2 separate regions of the Homo sapiens genome follow, and region 2 is linked to region 1. The links come from fine-mapping of genetic effects on gene expression. A gene starts in region 1. The other region holds a variant in brackets. All regions are shown on one strand. Distances are from middle to middle.

Evidence for each region.
Region 2: its variant is fine-mapped to the expression of ZSWIM5 in whole blood (TOPMed, PIP above 0.99).

What each region holds. Positions count from the first base shown.
Region 1 is chr1:45,200,522-45,216,681 of GRCh38, reverse strand. ZSWIM5 (zinc finger SWIM-type containing 5) reads left to right here and starts at 10,077. Exons shown (of 14, transcript NM_020883.2): 1 at 10,077-10,926. The coding sequence starts at 10,332. RefSeq lists silencers at 9,851-10,270, 10,471-10,630, 12,599-12,799 and enhancers at 9,699-10,598, 10,599-11,499.
Region 2 is chr1:45,173,997-45,190,156 of GRCh38, reverse strand. The region is part of intron 1 of ZSWIM5 (zinc finger SWIM-type containing 5); the gene reads left to right. Among named protein-coding and RNA genes, the nearest start is that of ZSWIM5, 25 kb to the left of the region's middle. The variant T/C (reference allele first, on the strand shown) is at 8,155.

The sequences.
Region 1 (16,160 bases):
GTGCCATGTTTAAAGATTGAGAGGGTGCAAAGGATGCGAGGGGTTGTGATCCCTACTGTAACCCCATTTAACTTGCCAATATGGCCCCTGTAGAATCTAGAAAGTTTCCAAAGGATGCCTGTAGATTACCACAATCTCAACCAAGTAGCAGCCCTGATTGTATGGCAGTAGCAACTGCCATACTGGACATGGTATCATCACTAGATTAGATTAATATGGCCTCAGGTACATAGCATGTAGCCATTTTGTTGGCAAATGCATTTCTTTTCTGTCCTAATCAAGAAAGAATCAGAATGACATACATTCATATGAAACATAGTTATTGTATTAGTCAGGGTTTTCCAGAGAAGATCTACAAGGTAAGTTGGCAAGCTTACCTTGCCTGGAGACTCAGGAGAGCCAATGGCTTAGTTCTAGTCTGAGTCTGAAGGTGTAAGAACCGGGAAAGCTGAGAGTATAGTTCCTGTGTGAATTGTGTGAGGCTTGAGACCCAGGAAAAACCAATATTTCAGTTTGAGTCTGAAGGCAGGAAAAAAGCTGATGTCCCAGTTCAAAGGCAGTCAAGCAGGAAAAACTCCGTCTTAGTAAGGGGAAGGTCAGCCTTTTTGTTCTATTCAGACCTTCAGCTAGTTGGATGAGGCCCACCCACATCCAGGAGGGCAATCTGCTTAACTCAGTCTACTGATTTAAATGCTAATTTCATTCAAAAATACCCTCAGAGAAACACCTAGACCAAATATCTGGGCATCTCGTAGCCTAGTCAAGTTGACACATAAAATTAACCATTACAGTTATTTATAGTTTTGCCTTGGGGTTATATTACATTTCTTGCCCTTTGTCATAATGTAGTATGATCCAGACCATCTCAAAGAACATCTTGTTGATTCATTATATTGATGACATCAAGTTGACTGAAAAGCATAAGCAAAAGTTTGCTAGGATGCTAGTGGCCTTATTAAGACACATATGTGCTGTGCAGGGTGGGAGAAAACTACAGTGAATTGGAGACAGTCATTTTGGTAAAACGCTTAGGGGCCCAGTTTCAGGGCATGTTAGGATATCCCCTTCAAAGTGAAAGATAAAATTGTTTCATCTTGCATCCCAAGTACATAGAAAGAAGCACAGAGCCAGATAGGCCTCTTCAGGTTCTGAAGGTAAGAGGGACTGCACACCTAGGAATACTGTTCTAGCCCCTATACTGAGGTAACACAGAACGCTATCATCCTTTGTGGTGCTTGGAGTAGGAAGGGGCTCTGAAGCAGGGCCAAGCAGTAGGGGAAGCAGCCTTGATGCTTGGGCTGTATAAGCCAGCAGGCCCAGTTGAAGGTATCTGTGGTGGGAAAAGATGCAATATGGAGTTTATGGGAAGCCCCAGTGGAGGAATCACAGTGCAGGTCCTGGGAATTTGGAACAAGGTCATGTTAGTCACAGGAGAGGATTATATACCCTAAGAGAAATAGCTCCTGGTGCCTTACTGGGCCCTGGTAGAGACAGGACGCTTGACTCTGGGGCACTAAGTTACTTTGAGTATGAAACTTTCCATTATGAGCTGGGTTCTGTTAGACCTGCCAAGTCATAAATTCAGCCATACCAGCATCTGTCATTAGATAGAGACATTACATCCAGGACTATAACAGCCTTAGGAGGAATAGAGAGCATGAGCAGGAAGTCTAGGCCTCCTATACCACCTGCTATATTTGCATTATTGCTCTTCCCTAAGCTTGTGCTTATATCTATATGAGAGAAGGTAAGTCTGATGTGAGCGCTGAAAAAGGAAGAAAAAGCCTGAGCTTGGTTTATGGGTAGGCCTGTTTGGAATGTGGATACAAGCCAAAAATGGACAGTAATGGCATTATAGTCATATTCAGCAGTGGCCCTGAAAAATGGCGGAAAGGAAAACTTTTCCAAATGAGTAGAGCTGGGAGCAGTGCATCTGGCTAGCTGCTTTGTGAGCAGGTGAAAGTGGCTAGAGAGGTGAATATATATATATAGATTCCTGGGCAGTGACCAGAAGGCAATGACCAGAGGGCTTGGGCCCTCTGGTCAGGGACCTGGAAGGGAAAGGATTTTTGTGTCACATATTAATGGCCACCTAAAAGCATCCAACATGAAAGAGGCATTGAACAGTCAAGCAGACAAAAATGACTTGGCCAGGTATTGCTAACTAGCCTGGTGCTAACTAGCTGGCTGCCCCAGGACTGGTATGATGGGGACATGACAGAGAACTCATGGTGGCATAAGTGGAAATTACATATAGGCTCAACAGCAGGCATTCCCATCTATCAAGATTTATCTAGCTATTGCTGCCTTGAATGTCCAACCTGTTGGCAACCAAAATGAACAACTAACCTCCTGATATAGCATTGTTCCTGCTACAGGCCAACTGTATCACACAGCACACCAGTCCCTTTCATTCTAAAAGGGTCAAGAGTTTGTTTTCAAAAGGAGAGATACCTGCATATGAGTTTGCCTTTCCTGCCTACAGACCTCAAATAGCCCCAGTACCCAAGGACTTATGAAATGCCTGATCCACAGGCATAGAATTCAACAAGGAATAGCATCCAACCAGGGAACCCACTTCACAGCAACAGGTGTTTGAGAGTCATCTGGTACTATAGTGTGAATGTCCCTTCTAAAACTCATGTTGAAATTTAATTGCCATTATAACAGCATTGACAGTCAGGACCTTTAAGAGGTGATTAGGTCATGAGGGTCCTGCCGTCATTATCATGAGAGTAGGTTAGTTATCACAGGAGTGGGTTCCTGATAAAAGGATGATGTTTGGCTCCCATCCTCTGTCTCACAGGCTCACTTTCTTCCATTGTGGGAAAACACAGCACAAAGGCCCTCACTAGATGTTGGTGCCATGCTCTTGGACTTACCAGCCTCCAAATCATGTGTTGAATAAACTTACATTCTTTGTAAATTACCCAGTCTGTGGTATTCTGTTATTGCAGCACAAAATGGATTAAGATATCTGGCATCACCATTGAATACCCTAGTCATATCATATAACACAATATCCAGCCAGCCTCATAAAATGCTGGAAAGACCTTCTACAGGCATAGAAGCAACCAGCCTTATAAAATGCTTAAATGCCCTTCTATAGACACATTTGATATGCCTAGTTCAGAGACCACATTTTGAAGGGATGGGGTGGCATCCTTCAAGATGATGAGTATGCAATGAATTAGGCACCTCTATATAGTGTTGTGGCTCCAACAGAAATGAGAAACCAAGGAGTAGAGACAAGAGTGGCCTCATTATTTATCATCATTTACAATGAACTTCTGGGAGATTCTGTGCTTCCTGTCCCCACAACTCTAGGTTCTACAGGACTAAAGGTTCGAATCCATTGCACCCTAACTTACGGCTGCTGCCAGGGCATCAGAGACTCCTTGTGCCCAGGGGCTAGCAGGTGAGAAAAGGAGTTAGCATACTGGCAGGAGTCATTGACCCTTAAGCAGGAGGCAGTATTCCTCTTACACAGTGTGAGCAGGAAGGAATACGTGTAGAACTGAAGAGATCTTCCTGATTGCCTCCCTGCCCCAATGTAACTGTGAACAGACACATGGAATAATCCTGGCCTATAAAGGTATGATTGCTGAGAGCTCAGAACTCTAAGGACTGAGGGTTTGGATCACATCTCTAAGCAAGTTCCAAGACCCGCTGAGGTGATAACGGAGGGTGAGGGGAATTCAGAATGGATAGTGGAAGAAGAAAAAGATGAGTTCCAGTTGTGGCCCCAAGACCAGTTGTAACAATAGGGAATAGAGCTCATCCCATTAACTATCCTCTTCTGAGTTTCCCCTCAGGAAGAGAACTGTGGAAGATCTGCTCCCTGATTTGCATGAAGAAGTAAATTGGTGAGGTAAAAGAAGTGAACTGTGGCAGCCATGAAAATGCTCTTCTCAGATTTCTGGCTGTGGGAGGCATACTTTACTGACCACTTTAGCTGCTGTGCTCCAAAATCTATCCCTGCATTTACCTCTGGATAAATGCTTTCCACAGGCTGCTGCCACCCAGTGATTTAGTACAATGAGAAGGAGTACTAAGACAGGTCCATTCCTAGAAGGCGCAGGACTCCTCTGATGGGCACATTTGGTCTTGCCTAACTTTCTTAGAACTATACTGCACTCTAAGACCCCCCCATTCAACCTTCCTTCCTTTCTTTTCTCTTTCATCTGCATTGAGATCTGATGTCTCTTACAGTCTTCCCTAGCTTCTAGCTTCCTCTCCATGTTCCCTATTAAGCATAACGTCTAATAAATCTCTTGCACATCTAATCCCATCTTGACTAATTCACACCCTAAATGTCCATTAGAGGGAGAATAGACAACATGTGGTACATTTATATAGTGGAATACTACTAAGTATAAAAACAGAACAAACTGTCATGAGAATAACATAGGTGACTCTCAATTATTATTATGCTTAATAATAAACCAGACATAAAATAATTTATGCCATATTATTCCATTTAAATGAATAATTGGTATCTCTGGGAGGTGGGTATCAAGCTGAAAGGGACATAAGGGACTTTTCTGGAATGACAGAAACATTCTACATTTTTTCTATGTAAAGACCTCATGGGTGTATACATTTGTAAAAAGTCTTCCTAGAAAGCAGACTCAGGGGGAAAACATCATCAAGCTGTACACCTGAGAATTGTGCCTTTTAATTAAAAGTACTCAAAAAAAAAAAGATTGGTGCTTTTTTTTTTTTTTTTTTTTTTGAGACGGAGTCTGTCTGTCGCCCAGGCTGGAGTGCAGTGGCACGATCTCGACTCACTATAACCTCCGCCTCCTGGGTTCAAGCGATTCTCCTGAGTAGCTGGGATTACAGGCGCATGCCACCATGCCCAGCTAACTTTTGTATTTTTAGTAGAGACGGGGTTTCACCATGCTGGCCAGGCTGGTCTCGAACTACTGACCTCATGATCTGTCCACCTCGGCCTCCCAAAGTGCTGGGATTACAGGTGTGAGCCACCGCCCCCGGCGATTTGTGCATTTTAATGCATGAAAATTCCGCCTCAATAAAGTATTGAAAAAATAATAAAGGAGATTTATTGGTTCATGTAACTGGATGTTGATAGAGGGCTTCAGGTTTTGATTCAGCTGTTTAGCAATGCCATCAGAAATCTCATTTTTTTTTCATCTTTCCCATAAGTCTTTTGGTATGTCAGCTTCAACCCAAGCCTGGCTTACCTTTGTATTCACAGCATGCTACCAACAACCTCCTTTTCTGGGTCGAGGCACTAAGAGAATTGCTTTTGTAAGCTCTCTTAAAAGAGTAAGAACTTTCTTCTTTCCTGGAAGTTGCTAGCAAACCACATATCTTATTGGCCCAATAGGTTATGCTCATTCCTGAACCAATCCCTACGACCAGGGAAATGCCATACACTGATTGACTTATCTCTGCCTATCCCTGAATGAATCACTTTAGAATGAGATATGGAATTATGCCAGTTGATCAGACAAGTTAGCACTTACCCTTGGAGCTAAAGTCCTCTAATTTTATGGCTGCTCCATAACTGAAGGAAGAGAACCACGAAGTCTACCACAAGAAAAATAGCAGTTGACTGGACACAGTGGCTTACACCTGTAATCCCAATACTTTGGGAGGCTGAGGTGGGTGGATCACCCAAGGTCTGGAGTTCAAGACCAGCCTGGCCAACATGGTGAAACCCTGTCTCTACTAAAAATACAAAAATTAGCCAGGCATGGTGGCGGGCACCTGTAATCCCAGCTACTCAGGAGGCTGAGGCAGGAGAATTGCTTGAACTCAAGGGGTGGGGGTTGCAGTGAGCTGAGATTGCATCACTGCACTCCAGCCTGGGCAACAAGAGTGAAACTCTGTATCAAAAAAAAAAAAAAAAAAAAAACCAGAGTTGGGTAATAGGTCCAATCAATTCAAATCATGGTCTTCTAGCCAGGCATGGTAGCTCATATCTGTAATCCCAGCACTTTGGGAGGCCAAGATGGGAGGACTGCTTGAGCCCAGGAGTTTGAGACCAGCCTGGGCAATATAGGAAGACCTTGTCTCTACAAGTGTGGTGGCGAATGCCTGTGGTTCCAGCTACTTGGGAGGCTGAGGTGGTAGGATCGCTTGAGCCTAGGAAGCAGAGGTTTTAGTGAGCCAAGATTGTACCACTGCACTCCAGCCTGAATAACAGAGCCAGACACTGTCTGAAAAAAAAGAAAAAAAAAATCATGATCTTCCTTTCTAATTCCTAAATATTTCTCATTCCCACTTCATTCAGTGTTTATGATATACCCAAACAAAGTGTTATCAGGAAGCACAGGTGTCTATCTTCTACATTTTGAAATAGAAGCCAAAATAAATTTTATTAAATAAATGACTGGGTTGCATACAGTTTGCTTGTCAAATGATACCTAAATCCTCATCTCTGAGTCTCACTCTATCCTTCACCTTCATCTCATCATTTCATTCCATGCAAAGGGGTTGAGGATGTTTCACAAATGCAAATTTAAAGATTTATTTCTAAGGTTGGATCAAAATTTTCCTGACATCAAAAGAGTTGTATTAAGATGTGAGGTATTCTTCCTGGTTATTGATTTTTGGTATTTGTGTTTTCACCCTGGGGATTGCAATGCTGTAAAATAAGTATCTTTAGACTCCCACAGTCTCCTTGAAATATGTCAATTCTCTCATCAGAGAAGAGGGATCAAACAGAGAGAGGTAACACAGGCCCAGAGCCATTGCTAGCCCATATGGTCACTTGGTGAGAATGAGAAAGAGGCACCCAGATGCAACCTGGTTGGTGCAGGGATGGGCAAATGGAGTGCAGGCCAGATTTCAGCCCCTTTTTGCCCGATGTCTAGATATCTTTTCGTCCAATGCCTTCTACAAGCCTTTATTACCTCCTTCCCACACTGTTGGTTTATCTCCAAACTCATCTTTTGCCTCCAGACTTTATCTTTCTCCTGATTCATCCTACATATTTCTGTCTGGTTAATATTCCTAAAACACTGCCTTTTATCATATAACTGTCCTGCTCAAAATACCTTTATTAGCTTCCCTCCACCAACCTAAGAAAATGCAGATTCCTCAAGTTAGCATTTTACAATGCTTTTAAAAGCTTTTCACAATGTCTCCTGTCTCTCTTGCAGTCTTTTCCCACTATTTCTCACCACAAACTTATGGTCCAATTAATCTAGCATTCTTGTTATTCACAACCACATATTGCATATTCCCAAATGTCTTATTTGCTGTGTTATTACCATCTGTATTTATATATTTATGTGCTTATTTTTTATTTTTTATTTATGTTTTTGAGACACAGTCTCACTCTGTCTCCCAGGCTGGCAGTGGTATAATCTCGGCTCAGTGCAACTCCGCCTCCTAGGTTCAAGCAATTCTCCTGCCTCAGCCTCCCGAGTAGCTGGGATTACAGATGCCCACCATCATGCCCAGCTAATTTTTGTATTTTTGGTAGAGGTGGAGTTTCACCATGTTGACCAGGCTTGTCTCGAACTCCTGGCCTCAAGTGATCCACCCACCTCAGCCTCCCAAAGTGTTGGAATTACAGGTGTGAGCCACCACGCCCGCCTAACATGGAGCTTATAGTCTATTTTGGGAAACAGACATTAAGCAAATAAACACATAAATATAGGCTAGGCGCCATGGCTCACACTTGTAATCCCAGCACTTTGGGAGGCTGAAGCGGGCAGATCACTTGAAGCCGGAGTTTGAGACCAGCCTGGTCAATGTGGTAAAACCCCATCTCTACTAAAAATACAAAAATTAGCTGGGCATGGTGGCATACACGCCTGTAGACCCAGCTACTTGGGAGGCTGAGGCAAGAGAATCACTTGAACCCAGGAGGCGGAAGTTGCAGTGAGCCAAGATTGTGCCACTGCACTCCAACCTGGGTGTGACAGAGTGAGACTGCATCTCAAAAAAAAAAAAAAAAAAAAAAAAGACAGTAACTGATTAAATCAGAATAACATATTCATTGATTCAAAGTGCAAATATTTTCTGAACATCTTCTATGTGTAGGCATTTTGGCAGGTGGTAGAAATAGGCCCTTACATGGAAATGGTTCCTGCCCTTCCACAGCTCATAGTCTAGTTAGGGGGACAGGCATTAAAGGAATATTCGTTCTCCCAAAAAACTCTGATAAATTATAGGAAAGAAAATAGTGTGTGTTATGGAAGCCTGTAAATGTGGTACCAGATTCAAGGTGGAGTAGGGATTATGCTATTTTGCAGTAATCTATTTATAGTTATTTACAGATATAAATCCATTTACCAATATAAACAGATTTCTTTTTCTTTCTTTTTTTGTTTTTTTAGAGAGGGTCTTGCTCTGTTGCCTGGGCTAGAGTGCAGTGGCATGATCATAGCTTACTGTAACCTTGAACTCCTGGGCTCAATCAATCCTCCTACATCAGCCTTCAGGGTAGCTAGGACTACAGGGTGTAGGCCACTAATCCCTGCTATTTTTTATTTCTTGTGTAGAGATGGGGTCTCCAGTCTGCTCTGTTGCCCAGGCTGGTCTAGAACTCCTGGCCTCAAGGGATCCTCCACTTTGGCCTCCCAAAGCCTTGGGATTACAGGCATGCGCCACTGCATCTGGCCTAAACAGATACTTATTGAGTACCTACTACACTGAATAAGCAAACAATTTGAATTACTTCTAATTCCAGCCAGCCTGGGCAACATAGGGAGACCGCCCCTCTACAAAAATTTAGAATTAGCTGGGTGTGGTGCTGTGCATCTGTTGTCCTAGTTATTCTGGAGGCTGAGATGGAAGGATAGTTTGAGTCCAAGAGTTTGAGGTTGCAGTGATCACCCCACTGCACTCCGGGCTGGACATCAGAGTGAGATCCTGTCTCTAAAAAAACTTTTTTTAAAGTGAATTATTTCTAATTCTTACAACATTTATGTGTAGAAGCATTATTACTAGCTCCCTTTTGCAAATGATTTAATAGAATCATGAATAGCATCACACACAGCAAGTGTGATTCACACCCAATTCTGCCTGTGCTCTTTAATTCTGAGATTACAGCAAAACCAAACTGTGGCTCCAGCCTGTCTCCAATCATTTACTCTCTTCTTACTCTTATTTTATCCTACACTCTAAATCTCTCTTACTTTGAAGGGCAAACTCAACTATAGAAACTCTTTTAATACAGTTCTTGGAACGTTTTAAAGTTGTAGAGATTAGTTTGTCAGCAAATTCTGAAATAATCTGAGCTTTCTTGATCGAGCAAGAAACAGTAACTTACAATTGCGTGTTGTTTATGGAGTTAGTGATGAAGCTGCCATTCTTGAGCACCCACTATGTGCCAGGCAGAGGATAAATTATAGTGAAGGAAATAGACATGATTCTCACTCTCATGGAGTTGACAGTCAGACATTAAACAAATATATAAAAATACAACTATGTAAAGGTGTAGAAGACTGAGCCAAGTGAGGAAAACATGAAAGACCTAATTCAGATTGGAGGTAGGGGATCAGAGAATTCTACCAAAAAACACGCAAAAGTGTTTTGTATTCTAGGATGCAAGGTGCTAAACCCTCCAAAAGACCCCACCAGGATGCAACCCCCGTGGCGATAAGATCTTGATGCCCCATTGTCAAGGGGTGGTGCGACTTTGTCCCACTCTGGGGTGGGGTGACCGCCGGCTTTATCCTACATTGTTGTGGCGTGAGGTGAGTTTTCATCATCCGAACTTTCTGATGTTTTCCCCTAGTGTCTTCTTTCCCAGCGTCTTTCTGCCAGATCTTCCGCTCTGCTGTGACAACCTCCTGTCACATCAGTACCGTTGGAGCTGGATTGTTTTTTTCTCCTTGTACCCCGCGAGCCTATAACTTCACGGAGGCGGCTCCTTGGATGGCTTATGGCCCCGCCATTTCATTCAGTCACACAGTCCATTCCTGTCTGGCCGGCGGCAGGTGGGTTGGAGGTGCGCGGGCGGGCGGGCGGGCGTGCGAGAGCGTCCGGCGCTCCTCTCCCCTCCGCGGTCGCCGGATCCGCGAGAGCGCTCGGCTCGCGTTCTAGGCTGTTTGCGCCTGGAGCGCGCCGCGGGCCCGCGCTCGCTCCCGCCTGTCTTCGCGTCCGCGGCGGCCAGGACACCGCGCGCCGCCTCACGCTACCCTGCAGGCCGCCCGCGTCTGCCCTCGCGGCGCGCTCCCGGGCCCGGCCGCGGTTCCCCACTCGGGCCGGCTGGCTCGCGGGTTCTCTCGCCCCGCCCCCCTCGGCGCCACCGCTGGGCGCTTGCGCGGGGCGCGTGGCCGTGGCCAGGGTCTCCGCCGCAGCCCGAGCAGCCGCCGCCGCCTCAGTCAGTCAGTCAGTCCCCAGCAATGGCGGACGGAGGTGAGCGAGAGGAGCTGCTCTCGCCGTCACCGGTCTCTCCGGCTAAGCGGCAGTGTTCGTGGCCCAGCCCGCAGGCTCATCACCCTCGCGGTTCGCCTGGGGCAGCCGGCGGAGGGGCAGGGGGCGTCGGCAGCAGCTGCCTGGTCCTCGGGGCCCGCCCCCACCTGCAGCCGGATTCCTTACTGGACTGCGCCGCCAAGACGGTGGCGGAAAAGTGGGCATACGAACGGGTGGAGGAGCGCTTCGAGCGGATCCCGGAGCCCGTGCAGCGCCGCATCGTCTACTGGTCCTTCCCGCGGAATGAGCGGGAGATCTGCATGTACTCCAGCTTCCAGTACCGGGGCGGCCCCGGCGCCGGCGCTGCTGGCGGCGCCGCGGGGGCTTCGCCGGCCGAGGAGGGGCCGCAGCCACCCCCCGGGGCCGCCGCTCCGGCCGGCTCCGCCCCCGGGGGCGTCGCGGCTGGGGCATCCCCCGGGCTGGGCGCAGGGGCCGGCGCGGCCGGCTGCGGTGGCGAGGGGCTCCCGTTCCGCCGGGGCATCCGTCTGCTGGACAGCGGCTCCGTGGAGAACGTGCTGCAAGTCGGTATGTGCTCGTCCAGGCGTTCTCGGGTCCTCAGCCTCCTCTTCCGCGGGTGCCTCTTCTCGGCCCGAGCCCTGGGGCCGAGACCCCGGCCTTCTGCCCAACTCCTGTACCCCTGCCGAAGGACGAACAAGTCACAAAAACTTTTTTCAACCTTTCACTCAGGTCCACCACTGCTCTTTCCTCCACTGACCCTCTACCCCAATTTCTTTTTGTTTGAAGAGTGAATAGATCTCTCTTCTTCACTCTTTCTATTCCCCACACCAAGGCAAAGAGAATGGGGAGGTATGACTTTTTGGATGTAATAATTTCAGAAATGTGTTGTCCTAATTTAAGTTTGGAGAGGAGAGGATTGTTAGTAAATCTGGAACAAGCGGTTTTAGAGGGAGCGTTTGAGGGACAGACTGTCAGAGGCAATCTATAGCCCTAGCCGATTGAGTCTCGATGAAATTAACACTGGGAAAAAAGCCCCAACAAAATACTGCATGTTTCAGACAGTTTTAATTGTCTGCGTTAGGATTTTTCCCCTGGACCGGTGATGCTTGGGAATCTAGGCTGCGGACTAACAATAACCGAAGATGGAAATGTGACAGCTTCTCCTCCACACCCCCACCCAAGGAAAAAAAAAAAAAAAGCCATACAATCTGGAGTGGGGGTGGGGTCTCTCTTCCTTGTCAGACTGGGGTAAATCAAAAGCTGGTCACGCTGGGTTTTTCAAAAGCTTCTCATTTAACAAGTCCTATTTGCTTTTATCTTTTTGTTATGGAAAAATATATTATACAAATGATTTCTTCCTTTACTCCTCCGGAGCTTCTAGTCAGTTTGTTAATCTTATTAAATATATAAATACAGTGCTTCTGATTTGTGGAATGGTTAAGGAGAAGGATAAAAAAATGATTAACATTGACTTTGCTATGTGGAAAATTAAAACACGAATTTTTTTCTATTTGGATTATTATGGCATTCTGGAAGTACATATCTTTATGCGTTTTATTGTACACTATATGCTCGTATTAATTGAAGAAAATACTGATTTTTGAAAGGAGTTGAAGGGAGGTTGTTTTTAGAATTAAACAAGCACAGAAAGACACAAACCCCAGACATCTAGCTCTCCAGGTAAAACCTGGAGAAAACATTTGAAAAATGTTTTTCTTTGAATCGTGCTGTTTCATATAAAGTAATCTGCTTCTGGTTATTGAGAATCATTGATTCCTGTGTTTCTAACCAAAACAACAGCATACCACAACTTGTTTTGCAAATGTGAAATGTAAATTTATCCTGTGCCAGAATATAGTGACAGTGGCTTGAGCAAGTTTTGTTTATTTGAAAGAGGTTAGTCCTTTATTTGTGTATATTTTTGAAAGAGTGACTTGAATAAATATGTAATTAAGGTGTACAGCTTTAATACTGAAACACTGAAAACATGAAAATAAATACAATCATTTTCCTATTAGTCTGTAAATTTTAATTTTTCTGAGTTTCGATCATTTATTTAACTTTTAAGATTCTTGTTTCAAATATTTTAAATGGAAAAGGATCAATTTAAGTGGTCATTTTATAGTAAGAGATGGATGAGGAAGAATTTTCAAACTTGAGGGAACAAATAAAAGAGAGGAAGAGTTTTAAAGAGGTGTCTATTTTTAAAGTAACTAAAGTGTCACTTTCCAAATGAAATAGGATATTTTGGGTAATCTAGATCATGTTTAAATCAGATATTTCCCCTTTATAATATGAAAGTTAATGTGGTTCTGGAGTTATAGGCTCTCTTATGGTAGTTTCAGAAGACACATATAAACAAACATGTTTTCTGATTGACTTGAGAAAAGACACATATAAACAAACATGTTTTCTGATTGACTTTGGATTTCAAAGACGAAGACCGGTGAATAAATTTATCACTTTAAGTTTATGCTACTTGAGAACCACGAGCTGTGTAATTTTTATTATTCTGACCTTAATTTAGGTTAATAAGTATAGGAGAGAAGGATAGCCTGTTCTGCATCTTTTTGAGTTCTGTATTTTGGTATGAACCACCTTTAATAGAGACTCATCCCCCATCTCCTAAACTTAAAGTTATAAGTAAATGACTTAATCTAGAGAGTAGGCTTTCTAAAAGTATTGCCAAGAGATGAGTAAGGAAGTGATTCGTATATACCAAGATAGTAATCGTGTTTTTCAGTTTATAACTGCACTTCAAACTCAATTAATTACTAAGTGATGCTAATTAAGAATTCTACATATTTCCTTACTGTTTCTAAACGATAGAACCTCAGATTTGGGAAGTTACTGAAGGCCGATGCTTTAGGAAGAACAGAAAGTTGGGGTATTTCTGTGACAACATCTTTTTAAGAAAAAGAGTCATAAGGGAATTTAATGAAAAAGGGAATTTAAATGAAAAAAGAAAGCACAAACAAAAAAGCCTTCAAGGCAAATAAATTAAAAACAAACAAAAACTTGTGGAAAGAGTAGGTAGATTAAATTCTGTAATTTCTAATTACTTTCCACACAAAATCTGGTAATGGGAAGTCATGAATTCTGGTTAAAAATTGGATACTTCAGATTTTAAATCAAAACTAAAACTTTTCCAGCTATGCTCAAAGGATACATTTCTTTTATGTAAGTACTGCATCAGAAGTAGTATTCCTTTTAAAAGGGGAAAATTGCAAATTAGTCTCTTCAGGGATGTCTGTAAGTTTAAAGCTATGTCAATAGACTTACAGTCTGATCTCAGTATTGTAAAGGTTAGAGTATGAACTCTATTGAAAACATATGAATGTTTTCAGCATCTGCATTTTTAACTTGTTTCAGAAGCCCATGGATATAGTAGTAGTATAAACTTTGGGAAAATACTTATTCAGGAGTCTGCAGATGGCATAAGAATAAGACACCTATAATTTACTAACGGTTTTAACATTTTGACCCTTTTGCTATCCACTGTATTTTAAATTGATTTCTTTGTATTTGGTAAAACTTAAAGAAGCTTTGCTTTTTCTCAGGAAAATCTGAATTGATTGAAGGAAAAAAAATTAACAGTTTTTCTCACTTAAACACAGAAATGTTATATTTACTTGGATATTTAGTTTTAAAAATTGGCTAAAGGCATGCAGGGGCCTTCTGCGCCTGGTACATCTTAGTTATGTACGTATTTATCCAGAAATTTTAAGTAGATTTTGACAGGTGACTTCAACAAAACCCCATAGTTTTAGTCTACACATTTTTTAATAAGTACATGATTTGTTCTTGAAGTCTTCAAGACTAGAACCAGAATGCTAAGTATTACCTTATGTGGAAGAGGTACAATTACAAAGTCAATAATGGAAATATAAAAAGTGGCCCATTTCAGGAAGTTATCTATAACTTAAACATCAAGTAGTAAGTTTAAAATTGTGTACACTTGTATATCATCAATAAACAGGTCTGTGAAATTTTTCTGTAGTATAACTTTTATGAAATTTATCAGTAACAAGTATTACAGTTTGTTGATTTTTATATGTAATTTGTTTTAATCTATATTGTTTGGGGGAACAAAAGATATCTACATTGAAAAAACTGTGGCATATGTGAGTTAGAATGAATAAAATTATAATAAAATTTCATGTGGAGAAAAATAACTTTATTGATATTTAAGGTATTCCATCACAGAAGGCAGCTGCATTCCTTTAAGCGGGTGTGCTTTTTAGCATAGAAATTTTTCAAGTTTTAAATCACATTATCTTTTTTTTTTCTGATCAATGAGTTCTCTCCCTCCACCCTAACACATCACATATGCACACATTTTAATGTTCAATAAGTGCTTGTTGAATGACTGAACGTTAAGAATGGATTTCTCAGTGTTGTAAAACAGAGAGAGACCTGAATTTTGAGTATGAGTGGTATTGGAATATATGGGGAAAACTCCAGATTTGTGCATATAATAAACTGATAGCATTAAGTAGTATGAGTGTTACAACTTAGGTGTATCTTCTGTGTTTAACCATCTATTTTGTGTGACGAATGGTGATTTATCAATTTCTTCAAATGAAAGCTTTAAATGAATTTTTCTAAAGGTGACTTTCTCAAGGATAGAGCTTTGGATTTTAAAGATGATGGATAAACTAAAGAGAGTGAATTTTATTTTAGAGGTTATCTTTATTTTAGGAATTTTAAAAATATATTATAGAAAAGGCTGGAAATTTATGCCTATGGGAGACAATTTTATTTCTCTTGTTTCAATAATAGCAATTAAAAAACAAGACATTAACTGTCAGTAATCTATTATGGTGAGGGTTATATGAATATATACATGTGTTAAAATGTATGGAACTATACACCAAAAAAGTCAAGTTTACTATATGATACCGTAGAAAATAAAATTTTTAAAAATCAATGCATTGATATAATGTACAAGAGAAACATATATATTACTGTAAAAATGCTGTATTAGTTTCCTATGGCTGCTGTAACAAAGTATCACAAACTGGATTGGCTTAAAACCACACAAATGTATTGTCTCAGAGTTCTGGAGGCTAGAAATCCAAAATCAAGGTGTTGGCAGTGCTATGCTCCTTCTGCAACCTACAGGGGAATCCTTTGTTGCCTCTTGCTAGCTTCTGGTGGTTTGTTGGCTGTCTTTGGCATTCTTTGACTTGGAGCTGCAAAATTCCAATCTCTGATTTTGTGGTCACGTGGCATTCTCCCTGTGTGTGTCTGTTTTCACATGGCCTTCTTATAAGGACACCGGTCATATTGGATTAGGGGCTCACCCTACTCCAGTATGACCTCATCTCAATCACATACACAACAACCCTATTCCCAAAGTCACATCATGAGGGACTGAGGTTATGTTCTGAGGTATTGGGGGTTAGGACTTCAGCATATTTTTTGGGGGGTGACATAATTCAGCCCATAACAGCTTCTCATACTTGTTTCTTGTTGCATATCTGAGTTTCATGTGAATTTTAAACTTTATTACATTAAGTATGGCTTAAGTTAGGAAATCACCACATTAATTTTATTAGGTAAGCATTATTTAGACTTGCTTGATTCAATTTGCATGATTATTTAATCTTAATACATGTGGAATATTTTTGACAAATAAGTGGTTATTTAAAGGTTAAAATTGTCATTCTTGATAAAAAATGATGACTGTGTGATATAGCACTCATGGTATACATATATGAATGAATAGATTACTGTGGGTTTTTTTTCATGCACACCATTTATAACTCAGCTTTAGAAATGGATAACCTTGAAAGCAT
Region 2 (16,160 bases), 27 kb after region 1:
TTTTCTGTGGAGACAGGGTTTTTCCATGTTGCCCAAGCTGGTCTTGAACTCCTGAGTTCAAGCAGTCTGCCTGCTTCAGCCTCCCATAGTGCTGGGATTACAGGTGTGAGCCACTGTACCCAGCAACTGTTTTACAGAAAAGCCTGAGCCTAGTTACTGTGACGTTTCTCAGGCCTTGCCCACTGCGTTTGTTCATTTACTGTCAACATTGGGCTGGGAAGTATCAAGAGATGCCCCAGTGGTAAATTAGATGCTAAATGTCCTCTACTCCCTGATGTTACTTTACTTTGTGTTGATAAATCTGCTTTATTTTGTAAACACCATCTGTTGCTGAGATAGCACATAATGTGACATTAAAATCAGGTAATTATGTAGGTTGTTTTTGTTTTGTTTTGTTTTTTGAGACGAAATCCAGCTCTGTCACCCAGGCTGGAATGCAGCGACAAGATCATGGCTTACTGCAGCCCCTACCTTCTAGGCTCAGGTAATTCCCTCACCTCAGCCTCCCGAGTGGCTGGGACTGCAGGTGCACGCCGCCATGCCTGGCTAACTTTTTGTGTTTTTTGTAGAGATAAGGTTTTGCCATGTTGCCCCACTGGTCCTGAACTCCTGGGCTCAAGTGATCCACCTACCTCGGCCTCCCAAAGTGCTGGGATTGCAGGTGTGAGTCACCAGCCTGGCCTATTATGTAGGTTTTAAAGATCAAATATAGTATTGTTGAATATGCTTTATTAATGGTTCTTTGATATATTATTAAAGTACTAATTGCAAAAGTTTTCAGATTATTACTTTGTGTGTTGTCCCTTGCAAATATTATTATTATTATTATTATTATTTTCTTTGAGACAGAGTCTCTGTCTGTTGACCAGGCTAGAGTGCAGTGGCATGATCTCAGCTCAATGCAGCCTCTGCCTCCCGGGTTGAAGTGATTCTCCTGCCTCAGCCTCCCAAGTAGCTGGGATTGTAGGTGTGCACTACCATCCCTGGCTAATTTTTGTATTATTAGTAGAGACAGAGTTTTTCCATGTTGGTCAGGCTGGTCTTGAACTCCTGACCTCAGGTGATCTGCCCACCTCAACCTCTCAAAATTTCTGGGATTACAGGCGTGAGCCACCGTGCCCGGTCCCTTGCAAATATTACTAATATAGCATCAAGGTAATTAGCAACAAAAGAAGTCACTCAACCAGAATGTTATCCAGTATGTTAGTGTAGTTTTATTTAGAACTTTATTTAGTAGTGAATGGTTTTTCAGTACCTATTCCCTTTTATCTATTCCCTTGGAGATTAGAATTGAAAAGGAGTTGGATTTTAACTTTCCTCAGTTATATATCTGTGTGATAAATATGCTGTCTAGCACACCATCAAAACAGGTTAGCCTTGCTAGGGTTTTTGTTTGTTTTGTTTTTATTAGGGAGGCTATCTTCTCTCTGTTTTGACGTCTAGGCTGCCTAATGAGGCCTTGAAAACCAGTCTCCAGCAGTGTCCCTGAAGACTTTGTAGTCTGGAATGAGGGGACCTTACAGCAGGTTTTCCCCACCTAATATCTTTAGTGAGATATACTTCATGTACTGTATAACTCATCCATTTAAAGTGTACAATTCAGTGGCTTTTACTATATTCACAGGTAGGGGCTGCCTTCACCACAGTCAATTTTAGAAGATTTTCCTCACCTCAGAAGAACCTTGCATCCTTTAGCTGTCACTCCCCAATCCAATCCCATATAGTCCTAAGCAATTACCAGTCTACTTTCTGTCTCTATGGATTTGCTTATTCTAGCCATTTTATATAAATTGAGTAAGAATATGTAGTCTTTTGTGACTGGCTTCTTTCACTTAGCATAATGTTTTAAAGGTCCATAAATGTGTAACATATATCTGTACTTTATTCCTTTTTAATGGTGAATAATATTACATTGTATGGATATACCACATTTTGTTTATCCATTAATTGGTTGTTGCATGTTTGGGTTGTTTTCCTTTTGGTTATTGTGAATAATGCTGCTGTGAATATTTGCATACAAGCTTTTGTGTGGATACGTGTTTTCATTTCTCTTGGGTATACATCTAAGAGTAGAATTGTTGGATCATGCAGTAACTATGTATAACATTTTGAGGAACTGCCAAACTATTTTCCAAAGTGCATCATTTTATAATTCTACTATCAATGTATGAGTGTTCTGATTTCTCCACATCTTTGCCAATACTTGTTATTATCTATCTTATTTATTATTTCCATCCTGGTGGAGGCCCGGAAGTAGTATCTCATTGTGGTTGGTTTGGATTTGCATTTCTCTGGTGACTAATGATGTTGAGATCTTTTCATGTGTGTATTGGTCATTTGTATAACTTCTTTGGAAAAAAATGTTTATTCAGATCCTTTGCCCATTTTTAAATTGGATTTTTTTATTCTTAAGTTGTGACAGTTCCTTATTCATTCTAGATACTAGTCCGTTATCAGATATGTGATTTGCAAATATATTTTCCCATTTTGTGAGGTGTCTTAACTCTCTTGATAGTGTCCTTTGAAGCACAAAAGTGTTAAATTTTGATGAAGTACAATTTATTTTTTTTCTCGGTTGCTTTTTTCTTTCTTTCTTTCTTTTGATAGTATAGCTAAGAAACCATTGCCTAACCCAAGATCAAGAAGATTTACTACCATGTTTTCTTCTAAGTGTTTTCTAGTTTTAGCTCTTATATTTTGTTTTATGTTTCATTTTGAGTTGACTTTTGTGATGTCAGAAGGGGCTTCAACTTTTTTTTAATATGGATATCCATTTTTTCCAGCATTATTTGGTGAAATGACTAGTCTTTCTCCATTGAATGATCTTGACATGCTGTTGAAAGCCAGTTAACCATAAATGAGTTTATTTCAGGACTCTCAATTCTATTCCATTGATCTTTATGTCTATCCTTATGTTAGTATCACATTGTCTTTATTACTCTTGCTCTAGTAAGTTTTGAAATTGCAAAGTGTGAGTCCTCCAACTTTATTCTTCTTTTTCAAGATTGTTTTGGCTATTCTCATTCCCTTGAGTTTCCCTATGAATTTTAGTATCAGTTTATTTTTTGCAAAAAAAAATCTAGTTGGGATTTTGAAAGCGATTGTATCGAATCCGTAGATCAGTTTGGAAGTTTTGGCATCTCTATTAGTGTTCTATAAGGAAACTACTACTGTAACAAATTACCATGAACTTAGTGGTTTAAAACAACACATATTTAATATTTTACAGGTCTGGGGGTTTTCTGGGCTAAAATCAAGTTATTGAGGGCAGGTATGATGGCTCACATCTGTAATCCCAACACTTTGGGAGGACTAGGGCAGGTAGATCACTTGAAGCCAGGAGTTCGAGACCAGCCTGGCCAACATGGCAAAACCCGGTCTTGACTAAAAATACAAAAATTTAGCCAGGCATGGTGGTGCACGCCTGTAATCCCAGCTACTTGGTGGCAGAAGCACCCGGGAGGCAGAGGTTGCAGTGAGCCGAGATCATGCCACTGCACTCTAGCCTCGGTGACAGAGCGAGACACTGTCTCAAAAAATAAATAAATAAATAAATAAATAAAACCAAGTTGTTGGCAGAGCTGTATTCCATCTAGAGGCTTTTCTTGGAAAGAATCTCTTTCCATGTCTTTTTCCAATTTCTAGAAGCTATCTGCATTCTGTGGCTCACAGCCTCTTCCTTTTTTATACCGTATCATTTTTTTTTTTCCTGAGGTTCAAGGGATTTTATTATTATTTTTTCTTTTTTTATTATTATTATACTTTAAGTTTTAGGGTACATGTGCACAATGTGCAGGTTAGTTACATATGTATACATGTGCCATGCTGGTGTGCTGCACCCATTAACTCGTCATTTAGCATTAGGTATATCTCCTAATGCTCTCCCTCCCCCCTCCCCCCACTGCACAACAGTCCCCAGAGTGTGATGTTCCCCTTCCTGTGTCCATGTGTTCTCATTGTTCAATTCCCATCTATGAGTGAGAACATGCGGTGTTTGGTTTTTTGTCCTTGTGATAGTTTACTGAGAATGATGATTTCCAATTTCATCCATGTCCCTACAAAGGACATGAACTCATCATTTTTTATGGCTGCATAGTATTCCATGGTGTATATGTGCCACATTTTCTTAATCCAGTCTATCATTGTTGGACATTTGGGTTGGTTCCAAGTGTTTGCTATTGTGAATAATGCCGCAATAAACATACGTGTGCATGTGTCTTTATAGCAGCATGATTTACAATCCTTTGGGTATATACCCAGTAATGGGATGGCTGGGTCAAATGGTATTGATAGTTCTAGATCCCTGAGGAATTGCCGCACTGTCTTCCACAATGGTTGAACTAGTTTACAGTCCCACCAACAGTGTAAAAGTGTTCCTATTTCTCCACATCCTCTCCAGCACCCGTTGTTTCCTGACTTCTAATGATCACCATTCTAACTGGTGTGAGATGGTATCTCATTGTGGTTTTGATTTGCATTTCTCTGATGGCCAGTGATGATGAGCATTTTTTCATGTGTTTTTTGGCTGCATAAATGTCTTCTTTTGAGAAGTGTCTGTTCATATCCTTTGCCCACTTTTTGATGGGGTTGTTTGTTTTTTTTCTTGTAAATTTGTTTGAGTTCTTTGTAGATTCTGGATATTAGCCCTTTGTCAGATGAGTAGGTTGCAAAAATTTTCTCCCATTCTGTAGGTTGCCTGTTCACTCTGATCGTAGTTTCTTTTGCTGTGCAGAAGCTCTTTCGTTTAATTAGATCCCATTTGTCAATTTTGGCTTTTGTTGCCATTGCTTTTGGTGTTTTAGACATGAAGTCCTTGCCCATGCCTATGTCCTGAATGGTAATGCCTAGGTTTTCTTCTAGGGTTTTTATGGTTTTAGGTCTAACATTTAAGTCTTTAATCCATCTTGAATTAATTTTTGTATAAGGTGTAAGGAAGGGATCCAGTTTCAGCTTTCTACATATGGCTAGCCAGTTTTCCCAGCATCGTTTATTAAATAGGGAATCCTTTCCCCATTGCTTGTTTTTCTCAGGTTTGTCAAAGATCAGATAGTTGTAGATATGCGGCGTTATTTCTGAGGCCTCTGTTCTGTTCCATTGATCTATATCTCTGTTTTGGTACCAGTACCATTCTGTTTTGGTTACTGTAGCCTTGTAGTATAGTTTGAAGTCAGGTAGCATGATGCCTCCAGCTTTGTTCTTTTGGCTTAGGATTGACTTGGCAATGAGGGCTCTTTTTTGGTTCCATATGAACTTTAAAGTAGTTTTTTCCAATTCTGTGAAGAAAGTCATTGGTAGCTTGATGGGGATGGCATTGAATCTATAAATTACCTTGGGCAGTATGGCCATTTTCATGATATTGATTCTTCCTACCCATGAGCATGGAATGTTCTTCCATTTGTTTGTATCCTCTTTTATTTCATTGAGCAGTGGTTGGTAGTTCTCCTTGAAGAAGTCCTTCACATCCCTTGTAAGTTGGATACCTAAGTATTTTATTCTCTTTGAAGCAATTGTGAATGGGAGTTCACTCATGATTTGGCTCTCTGTTTGTCTGTTATTGGTGTGTAAGAATGCTTGTGATTTTTGTACATTGATTTTGTATCCTGAGACTTTGCTGGAGTTGCTTATCAGCTTAAGGAGATTTTGGGCTGAGACAATGGGGTTTCCTAGATATACAATCATGACATCTGCAAACAGGGACAATTTGACTTCCTCTTTTCCTAATTGAATACCCTTTATTTCCTTCTCCTGCCTAATTGCCCTGGCCAGAACTTCCAGCACTGTGTTGAATAGGAGTGGTGAGAGAGGGCATCCCTGTCTTGTGCCAGTTTTCAAAGGGAATGCTTCCAGTTTTTGCCCATTCAGTATGATATTGGCTGTGGGTTTGTCATAGATAGCTCTTATTATTTTGAGATACATCCCATCAATACCTAATTTATTGAGAGTTTTTAGCATGAAGGGTTGTTGAATTTTGTCAAAGGCCTTTTCTGCATCTGTTGAGATAATCATGTGGTTTTTATCTTTGGTTCTGTTTATATGCTGGATTACATTTATTGATTTGTGTATATTGAACCAGCCTTGCATCCCAGGGATGAAGCCCACTTGATCATGGTGGATAAGCTTTTTGATGTGCTGCTGGATTCGGTTTGCCAGTATTTTATTGAGGATTTTTGCATCAATGTTCATCAAGGATATTGGTCTAAAATTTCTTTTTTGGTTGTGTCTCTGCCCGGCTTTGGTATCAGGATGATGCTGGCCTCATAAAATGAGTTAGGGAGGATTCCCTCTTTTTCTATTGATTGGAATAGTTTCAGAAGGAATGGTACCAGTTTATCCTTGTACCTCTGGTAGAATTCAGCTGTGAATCCATCTGGTCCTGGACTCTTTTTGGTTGGTAAGCTATTGATTATTGCCACAATTTCAGCTCCTGTTATTGGTCTATTCAGAGATTCAACTTCTTCCTGGTTTAGTCTTGGGAGAGTATATGTTTCCAGGAATTTATCCATTTCTTCTAGATTTTCTAGTTTATTTGCATAGAGGTGTTTGTAGTATTCTCTGATGGTAGGTTGTATTTCTGTGGGATCGGTGATGATATCCCCTTTATCATTTTTTATTGTGCCTATTTGATTCTTCTCTCTTTTTTTCTTTATTAGTCTTGCTAGCGGTGTATCAATTTTGTTGATCCTTTCAAAAAACCAGCTCCTGGATTCATTAATTTTTTGAAGGGTTTTTTTGGTCTCTATTTCCTTCAGGTCTGCTCTGATTTTAGTTATTTCTTGCCTTCTGCTAGTTTTTGAATGTGTTTGCTCTTGCTTTTCTAGTTCTTTTAATTGTGATGTTAGGGTGTCAATTTTGGATCTTTCCTGCTTTCTCTTGTGGGCATTTAGTGCTATAAATTTCCCTCTACACACTGCTTTGAATGTGTCCCAGAGATTCTGGTATGTTGTGTCTTTGTTCTCGTTGGTTTCAAAGAACATCTTTATTTCTGCCTTCATTTCGTTATGTACCCAGTAGTCATTCAGGAGCAGGTTGTTCAGTTTCCATGTAGTTGAGCGGACTTGAGTGAGTTTCTTAATCCTGAGTTCTAGTTTGATTGCACTGTGGTCTGAGAGACAGTTTGTTATAATTTCTGTTCTTTTACATTTGCTGAGGAGAGCTTTACTTCCAACTATGTGGTCAATTTTGGAATAGGTGTGGTGTGGTGCTGAAAAAAATGTATATTCTGTTGATTTGGGGTGGAGAGTTCTGTAGATGTCTATTAGGTCTGCTTGGTGCAGAGCTGAGTTCAATTCCTGGGTATCCTTGTTAACTTTCTGTCTTGTTGATCTGTCTAATGTTGACAGTGGGGTGTTAAAGTCTCCCTTATTATTGTGTGGGAGTCTAAGTCTCTTTGTAGGTCACTCAGGACTTGCTTTATGAATCTGGGTGCTCCTGTATTGGGTGCATATATATTTAGGATAGTTAGCTCTTCTTGTTGAATTGATCCCTTTACCATTATGTAATGGACTTCTTTGTCTCTTTTGATCTTTGTTGGTTTAAAGTCTGTTTTATCCGAGACTAGGATTGCAACCCCTGCCTTTTTTTGTTTTCCATTTGCTTGGCAGATCTTCCTCCATCCTTTTATTTTGAGCCTATGTGTGTCTCTGCACGTGAGATGGGTTTCCTGAATACAGCACACTGATGGGTCTTGACTCTTTATCCAATTTGCCAGTCTGTGTCTTTTTGTTTGTTTGTTTGTTTGTTTGTTTGTTTTTTTGAGACGGAGTCTCGTTCTGTCGCCCAGGCGGGAGTGCTGTGGCGCGATCTCCGCTCACTGCAAGCTCCGCCTTCTGGGTTCACGCCATTCTCCTGCCTCAGCCTCCCGAGTAGCTGGGACTACAGGCGCCAGCCACTGCGCCCGGCTAATTTTTTGTATTTTTAGTAGAGACGGGGTTTCACCGTGGTCTCGATCTCCTGACCTCGTGATCCGCCCGCCTCGGCCTCCCAAAGTGCTGGGATTACAGGCGTGAGCCACCGCGCCCGGCCCAGTCTGTGTCTTTTAATTGGAGCATTTAGTCCATTTACATTTAAAGTTAATATTGTTATGTGTGAATTTGATCCTGTCATTATGATGTTAGCTGGTTATTTTGCTCATTAGTTGATGCAGCTTCTTCCTAG[T/C]CTCGATGGTCTTTACATTTTGGCATGTTTTTGCAGCGGCTGGTACCAGTTGTGCCTTTCCATGTTTAGTGCTTCCTTCAGGAGCTCTTGTAGGGCAGGCCTGGTGGTGACAAAATCTCTCAGCATTTGCTTGTCTGTAAAGTATTTTATTTGTCCTTCACTTATGAAGCTTAGTTTGGCTGGATGTGAAATTCTGGGTTGAAAATTCTTTTCTTTAAGAATGTTGAATATTGGCCCCCACTCTCTTCTGGCTTGTAGAGTTTCTGCAGAGAAATCAGCTGTTAGTCTGATGGGCTTCCCTTTGTGGGTAACCTGACCTTTCTCTCTGGCTGCCCTCAACATTTTTTCCTTCATTTCAACTTTGGTGAATCTGACAATTATGTGTCTTGGAGTTGCTCTTCTCGAGGAGTATCTTTGTGGCGTTCTCTGTATTTCCAGAATCTGAATGTTGGCCTGCCTTGCTAGATTGGGGAAGTTCTGGATAATATCCTGCACAGTGTTTTCCAACTTGGTTCCATTCTCCCTGTCCCTTTCAGGTATACCAATCAGATGCAGATTTGGTCTTTTCACATAGTCCCATATTTCTTGGAGGCTTTGTTTGTTTCTTTTTATTCTTTTTTCTCTAAACTTCCCTTCTCGCTTCATTTCATTCATTTCATCTTCCATCACTGATACCCTTTCTTCCAGTTGATCGCATCGGCTCCTGAGGCTTCTGCATTCTTCACGTAGTTCTTGAGCCTTGGCTTTCAGCTCCATCAGCTCCTTTAAGCACTTCTCTGTATTGGTTATTCTAGTTATTCATTCGTCTAAATTTTTTTCAAGGTTTTCAACTTCTTTGCCTTTGGTTTGAATTTCCTCCTTTAGCTCGGAGTAGTTTGATCATCTGAAGCCTTCTTTTCTCAACTCGTCAAAGTCATTCTCCGTCCAGCTTTGTTCTGTTGCTGGTGAGGAGCTGTGTTCCTTTGGAGGAGGAGAGGCGCTCTGCTTTTTAGAGTTTCCAGTTTTTCTGCTCTGTTTTTCCCCCATCTTTGTGGTTTTATGTACTTTTGGTCTTTGATGATGGTGATGTACAGATGGGTTTTTGGTGTGGATGTCCTTTCTGTTTGTTAGTTTTCCTTCTAACAGACAGGACCCTCAGCTGCAGGTCTGTTGGAGTTTGCTAGAGGTCCACTCCAGACCCTGTTTGCCTGGGTATCAGCAGCGGTGTCTGCAGAACCGCAGATTTTCGTGATCCGTGAATGCTGCTGTCTGATCGTTCCTCTGGAAGCTTTGTCTCAGGGGAGTACCCAGCCGTGTGAGGTGTCAGTCTGCCCCTACTGGGGGGTGCCTCCCAGTTAGGCTGCTCGGGGGTCAGGGATCAGGGACCCACTTGAGGAGGCAGTCTGCCCGTTCTCAGATCTCCAGCTGCGTGCTGGGAGAACCACTGCTCTCCTTAAAGCTGTCAGACAGGGACATTTAAGTCTGCAGAGGTTACTGCTGTCTTTTTGTTTGTCTGTGCCCTGCCCCCAGAGGTGGAGCCTACAGAGGCAGGCAGGCCTCCTTGAGCTGTGGTGGGCTCCACCCAGTTGGAGCTTCCCGGCTGCTTTGTTTACCTAAGCAAGCCTGGGCAATGGCAGGCGCCCCTCCCCCAGCCTCGCTGCTGCCTTGCAGTTTGATCTCAGACTGCTGTGCTAGCAATCAGTGAGACTCCGTGGGTAGGACCCTCCGAGCCAGGTGCAGGATATAATCTCCTGGTGTGCCGTTTCCTAAGCCCGTCGGAAAAGCGCAGTATTCGGGTGGGAGTGGCCCGATTTTCCAGGTGCCGTCTGTCACCCCTGTCCTTGACCAGGAAAGGGAACTCCCTGATCCCTTGGGCTTCCCGAGTGAGTCAGTGCCTCGCCCTGCTTCGGCTGGCGCACAGTGCGCTGCACCCACTGTCCTGTGCCCACTATCTGGCACTCCCTAGTGAGATGAACCCGGTACCTCAGATGGAAATGCAGAAATCACCCGTCTTCTGTGTCGCTCACACTGGGAGCTGTAGACCAGAGCTGTTCCTATTCGGCCATCTTGGCTCCTCCCTATACCATATCATTTTAACCTCTGCTTCCATTGTCACATTTCCTGTCTCTGACTTTAAGCCTCTTGCCTCCCTCTTATAAGGACTATGTGATTACATTGAACCCACTCAGATAATCCAGGATAATTGCTACATCTGAAGAATCTTAATCACATCTGTAAAGTCCCTTTTGTCAGGTTCTGGATGTTAGGGTGTGGACATATTTGGTGAGGGGCATTATTCTGTTTACCATGCCATCATAACAACATCTCATCTTCTGATCCATGAACATGGGATGTCTCCCCATTTATTGGATCTTAATTTCTTTCAACAATGTTTTGTTGAAGTTTTATCTTTTTTCAACTTTTATTTTAGAATTGGGGGGGCACATGTGCAGGTTTGCTACAAAGGAATATTTCACGGTGCTGAAGTTTGGAGTACGTACGAATGAATCTGTTACCCAGGTAGTGAGCATAGTACCCAATAGGTATTTTTTTTCAACCCTAACCCTCTCCCTTCCCTATGTTGTATTCATCAGTGTCTGTTGTTCCCATTTTTACAACCACATATGCCCAGTGTTTAGCACCTTCTTGTAAGTGAGAACATTTAGTCTTTGAATTTCTGTTTCTGCATTAATTAACATAGCATAATGGTTTCCAGGTGCATCCATGTTTTTGTGAAGTACATGGCTGTGTAGTATTCCATGGTGTATATGTACCATGGGATGTACCTCATTTTCTTTATTCAACCCACTGTTGGTGGGCACCTGAGCTGATTCTATGTTTTTGCTAATTTGAATAGTGCTGTAATGAATATACAGGTACACGTATGTGTCTTTTTGGTAGAATGACTTATTTTCCTTGGTTGGATTTACTCCTAAGATATTTTTTTCTTTTTCATGCTATCATAAATGGAATTGTTTCCTTTATTTCATTTTTTAATTGTTTGTTGCTAGTGTATATAGATAGAAATATAACTGATTTTTGTATGTTGATCTTGTACCCCTAACCTTGTGGAATTCATTCATTTATTTATTTATTTTAATTTTAAATAGTATCTTATTGAATGTTTTATTCACAGAAAAATAAGCTTTAATCTACAATGAATGCCAGATTATACAGCAGAGAGCAGTTTTCTTAGTTTTCCACACTGATAGAAAGGTTCTTACTAAGTGAAAAAAGCCATAAAATTATATTCACCAATAGAGTACTCTGTCTCAAAACATTCCACATGATTGTTCACAATACTAATACAATTAAATCAGTCATTTACGTTAAAGTATAACAGTGATAAAAAATGCAAAATCTAATATAAATTACATTAAAACTTTTGTTATATCAAATCAGAAATGCAAATTTCTTACTAAATACAGAAAAATGGTCAAATATATAGTAATTTAAGATATTACATTAATGATACAGAATAGGAAAGTGGTAAACTCCAAAAATCTATAGGCATATCTGCAAACTTCAGACTTCAAAGTAGAATCTGACCACCCAAACATTAATGTAGCATTTGTCTAATTTTTGTTTTGTTTTGTTTCTGAGACGGAGTCTCACTCTATCACCCAGGGTGGAGTGTGGTGGCGCCATCCTGGCCCACTGCATCCTCCACCTCCCAGGTTCAAGCGACTCTCCAGCCTCAGTCGGTCGAGTAGGTGGTACCACAGGCATGCGCCACCACACCCAGCTATCCCTTCATTTCTGCAAAGACAGGGTTTCAGCCTGTTGGCCAGGCTGGTCTCCAACTGCTGACCTCAGGTGATCCGCTTGCCTCAGCCTCCGAAAGTGCTGGGATTACAGGTGTGAGCCACTGTGCCCGGCGCCATTTGTCTAATTTGAAGATACAGTTGTCCCTTGCTATCCGTGGGGTTTTGGTTTCACAACCCCCTAGGACCTGAGGATGCTTAAGTCCCTTAGATAAAATCACATAAGGCCGGGTGTAGTGGTTCACGCCTGTAATCCCAGCACTTTGTGAGGCCAAGGCAGGCAGATCACCTGAGATCAGGAGTTTGAGACCAGCCTGGCCAACACCCTTGTGGAATGAATTTATTACTCAAATAGAGATAAACTTTTATCTTCCTTTCCAATCTGGAATCCTTGGTCCTTATCAAGTCACAAAACTCAGTGTTGTTTGTGCCATAGAATGCATTGTATTAAGGGATTTTTCTGCTTGCATTAGACTGGGAAATGCTTTTTAATGTGCTATTGTGTTATTAAAGAATATGATCCCAGGGAAGCAAGAGTGAGAGAAAATGAAATGAGACAGGGAAGGAGGGTAAGGCAACATAAGGATGTGTCATAGAGCTGGTTACTGCTTGGTATCAAGTAGCAACTGATTGCTCAATCTCCCCGAATTGTCTTATAAAGCAGCAGAGAGAATCCCCTTTTATGCCCATCTTTCATTTCATGAGATTCAGACCTGGGAAATATTTTGCTATTAAAGGTATATTTTGCATACCCCTCTGTAACTTTCACCATTATTGATTTCACAGTTTGGGTTGTAGGAATTGTAGAAATTGCTCTATTGCTGTTACCACTCTGTATAACCTGCAAACTTAAGTACCTTAAATTCCCTGTGTATATGGTGTAGGTTTTTCAGTTCCAATGTGGAAAAGGGGGTTGGCCATAGTTCATAGCCTTGTTAGAGTCTATAACAACTCTTAATGATTGGAAGTGTAAAATAAATAAGAACAAGCATTCAGTACATTTAAGAAATTTTTTTCTTTTTCAGTGTCATATTCTTTTCTTCTTTCCTATTATTTTCTTTAGTGTTTATTCCTTATTTTCTGCATACGTTTTAGAAACATAATCACTGTATAGCAAAATAGCTAATTATGAGGTGTCATACAATGATACTGCTCTTCTCTTCCCTCCTCTCTCTAGTTCCTGAATCCTTAATCATTCCCTTTTCTTCTGACTTCCCTTCCTGAAAACTTTAGTCCAAACCTGGGAGAAGCAAGAGAAAAGGAAGTGAGATGGGAAGAAGGGATAGTAGCAGTGGCCTGAAAGGGTATATTGGAGCCCAACTGGAGCAGTGGCCTAGCATGGGGTGCTAGAGCCAAAGTGGGGTGAGGAGGGTATCCACATGAAGGGGGATATAATTTGAGATGTCAGAGTCTGAAAGGGTTGAGGATGACTTTTGTATAGGGGTGAAGGGGAGTGTAGAGCCATAGGGTGTTAGTGTTCAGATGGGGTGAAGTGGGCATAGCAGGGGGTGGCAGCAGTAGGTGCAGGTTTTTTGAGCTTGAGCACAGTGAGAAGAATGTCCTTATTGGCAGGGAGGAGCTGTGGTGGCAATGAAAGATTGGTTATTTATAGATATTGATCAACTAAGTAAATCAATTAAGGATAACAGGAGCCAAATTTCTCACTATCAGAAAAAGTAGCTAAAATGTAGACCAGGCCGGGCGCGGTGGCTCATGCCTGTAATCCCAACACTTTGGGAGGCCAAGGCGGGTGGATCACCTGAGGTCATGAGTTCAAGACCAGCCTGGCCAACATGACGAAACCCCGTCTCTACTAAAAAATAGAAAAATTAGCTCGGTGTGGTGGCATGCACCTGTAGTCTCAGCTACTCAGGAGACTGAGGCAGGAGAATCGCTTGAACCCAGGAGGTGGGGGTGGCAGTGAGCCAAGATTGTGCCATAGCACTCCAGCCTGGGCAACAAGCAAGACTCCGTCTGAAAAATAAAATAAGATAAGAAAAGATAAAGACCAGGGAGAAAAGGTGAATGAACTCTGGGTTTTGGATTGTAATTGGAGATACCCACGTGAACTCATGGTTTTTAGTATATATTGGAATATATATATAATATATATTATATATATATATGGCATTCAGTTAACTGAGAGGGCCTTAGAGCAGTAATATCCCAATAGCAATAAGCACACCTAATGCCCATATCTTGGTTTCCAAGTACTTTTCTCCGATAAAAGGAACAAAGCCTCCTTGGAGAAATGGCTGAATTTAGGGGTGAGGCAGAGAAAGTATCAAATGAGCCTTGAACATGTTCTTGTGCCAGAAAGCAGGGAGGTTCTTAAAGAATTATAGCAACACATCAAAAAGGATACAAAAGCCAGCTTTGAAGAGATTCCCATTAGCCAAATATGGGATGAATTGAGTGTCAAAATAATGATAATAATGGATATAACCAACCCATTGAATGAAATAGAAACCCATGAGTTCATTGTGTCAATGGTTTTTTTTTTTTAAAGGCCAGGTGCCATGGTTCATGCCTATAATCCCAGCACTTCGGGAGGCTGAGGAGGGAAGATCACATGAGCCCAGGAGTTTGAGACCAGCCTGGGCAACATGGCAAAACACCGTCTCTACAAAAATTTTAAAAAATTAGCCGGGCATGGTGGTGCATGCCTGTGGTCTCAGCTACTTTAGGAGGCTGAGGTGGGAGGATCGCTTGGGCCCAGAAGGTTAAGGCTGCAGTGAGCTGGGATTGCTCCACTGCACTGCAGCTTGGGCGACAGAATGAAACCCTGTCTCCAAAATAAAATATTTTTAGAAAGAGTAAGTTGAAAATTTGATGAGTATATTGGCATAATGTCAATATGGTTCCCATGAGATACTTTAATTATAAGGGGAAAAAGGTAACTTTAAAGTGAGGAATCCAGGCAAACACTACTGTGATCAAATGAGCAAAGTTAACCTCACCAGTGATGGGAGAAATCAAAATTGTGTGCCATTTGATAGGAAACAATAAGAACATGGCTCCACTTCTATGATATTACTGCCAAAGATAGATAACCTGAATCTAATCATGATGAAATAACAGGCACTACTGAGGGACATTCTTCAAAATAGCTAGCCTGAAGTCTTCGTAAGTATCAGAAGTCAGAAAGTTAAGACTACAGGTGGTTCCAGATTGAAGGAGAATAAGGAGACATAAAAACTAAATGCATTGTATGACTTTGGACTGGATCCTTATGGGGACATTTTTGGGGCAATTGGCAACAGTTGAATGGGGCCTGTGCATTATATGATAATGTTATGGTATTGATTTCTGATTTTCATGATTTTTATAGTTCTGTAGGAGAATATCTTTGAAGGAAATACACAAAAAAAGTATTCTGGGGTGATAAGGCAGTACGTTGACAACTTACTCTCCAATAACTCATTTAAAAATTATTTGAACTGTACTTGCAACTTTTCTGTAAGTTTGAGATTGTTTCAAAATAAAAAGGGATAAATATGATAATCTTTTTCTTTTTTTTGAGACAGAATCTTGCTCTGTGGCCCAGGCTGTAGTGCAGTGGCGCGATCTCAGCTCACTGCAAACTCCACCTTGCAGGTTCAAGCAATTCTCCTGTCCCAGCTCCCCGAGTAGGAGAGTATTTTGTATTGGGTGTGTCATGCCCAGCTAATTTTTTTTTTTTTTTTTTTAGTAGAGTTGGGGTTTCACCATGTTGGCCAGGCAGGTCTCAAACTCCTGGCCTAAAGTGATCCGCCCACCTCGGCTTCCCAAAGTCCTGGGATTACAGGTGTGAGCCACCTCACTGAGCTGATAATGAACTTGAATGAACTTTGATTAATAGTGAGTACTCCTCCAATTACCTATTTATTTTGAATTGTTTAAGAGAATATGTTTTTCTTAGCTTACATTAAAAATCTCCAATTATTTTTATTAAAAGATCACTTTTGAATGTTTTAGTTTTATTTCATATTTTGTTTTGTTTTTTTGAGACAAGGTCTCGCTTTCTCACCCAGGCTGGAATGCAGTGGCCTGATCTTGGCTCACTGCAACCTCTGTCTCCGGGTTCAAGCAATTCTCCTGCCTCAGCCTCCTGAGTAGCTGGGAATACAGGTGTATGACACCATACTTGGCTAATTTTTATATTTTTTGTAGAAATGGGGTTTTACCTTGTTGGCCAGGCTGGTCTCAAATTCCTGACCTCAAGTGATCCACCCACCTTGGCCTCCCAAAGTGCTGGCATTACAGTCGTGAGCCACTGCACCC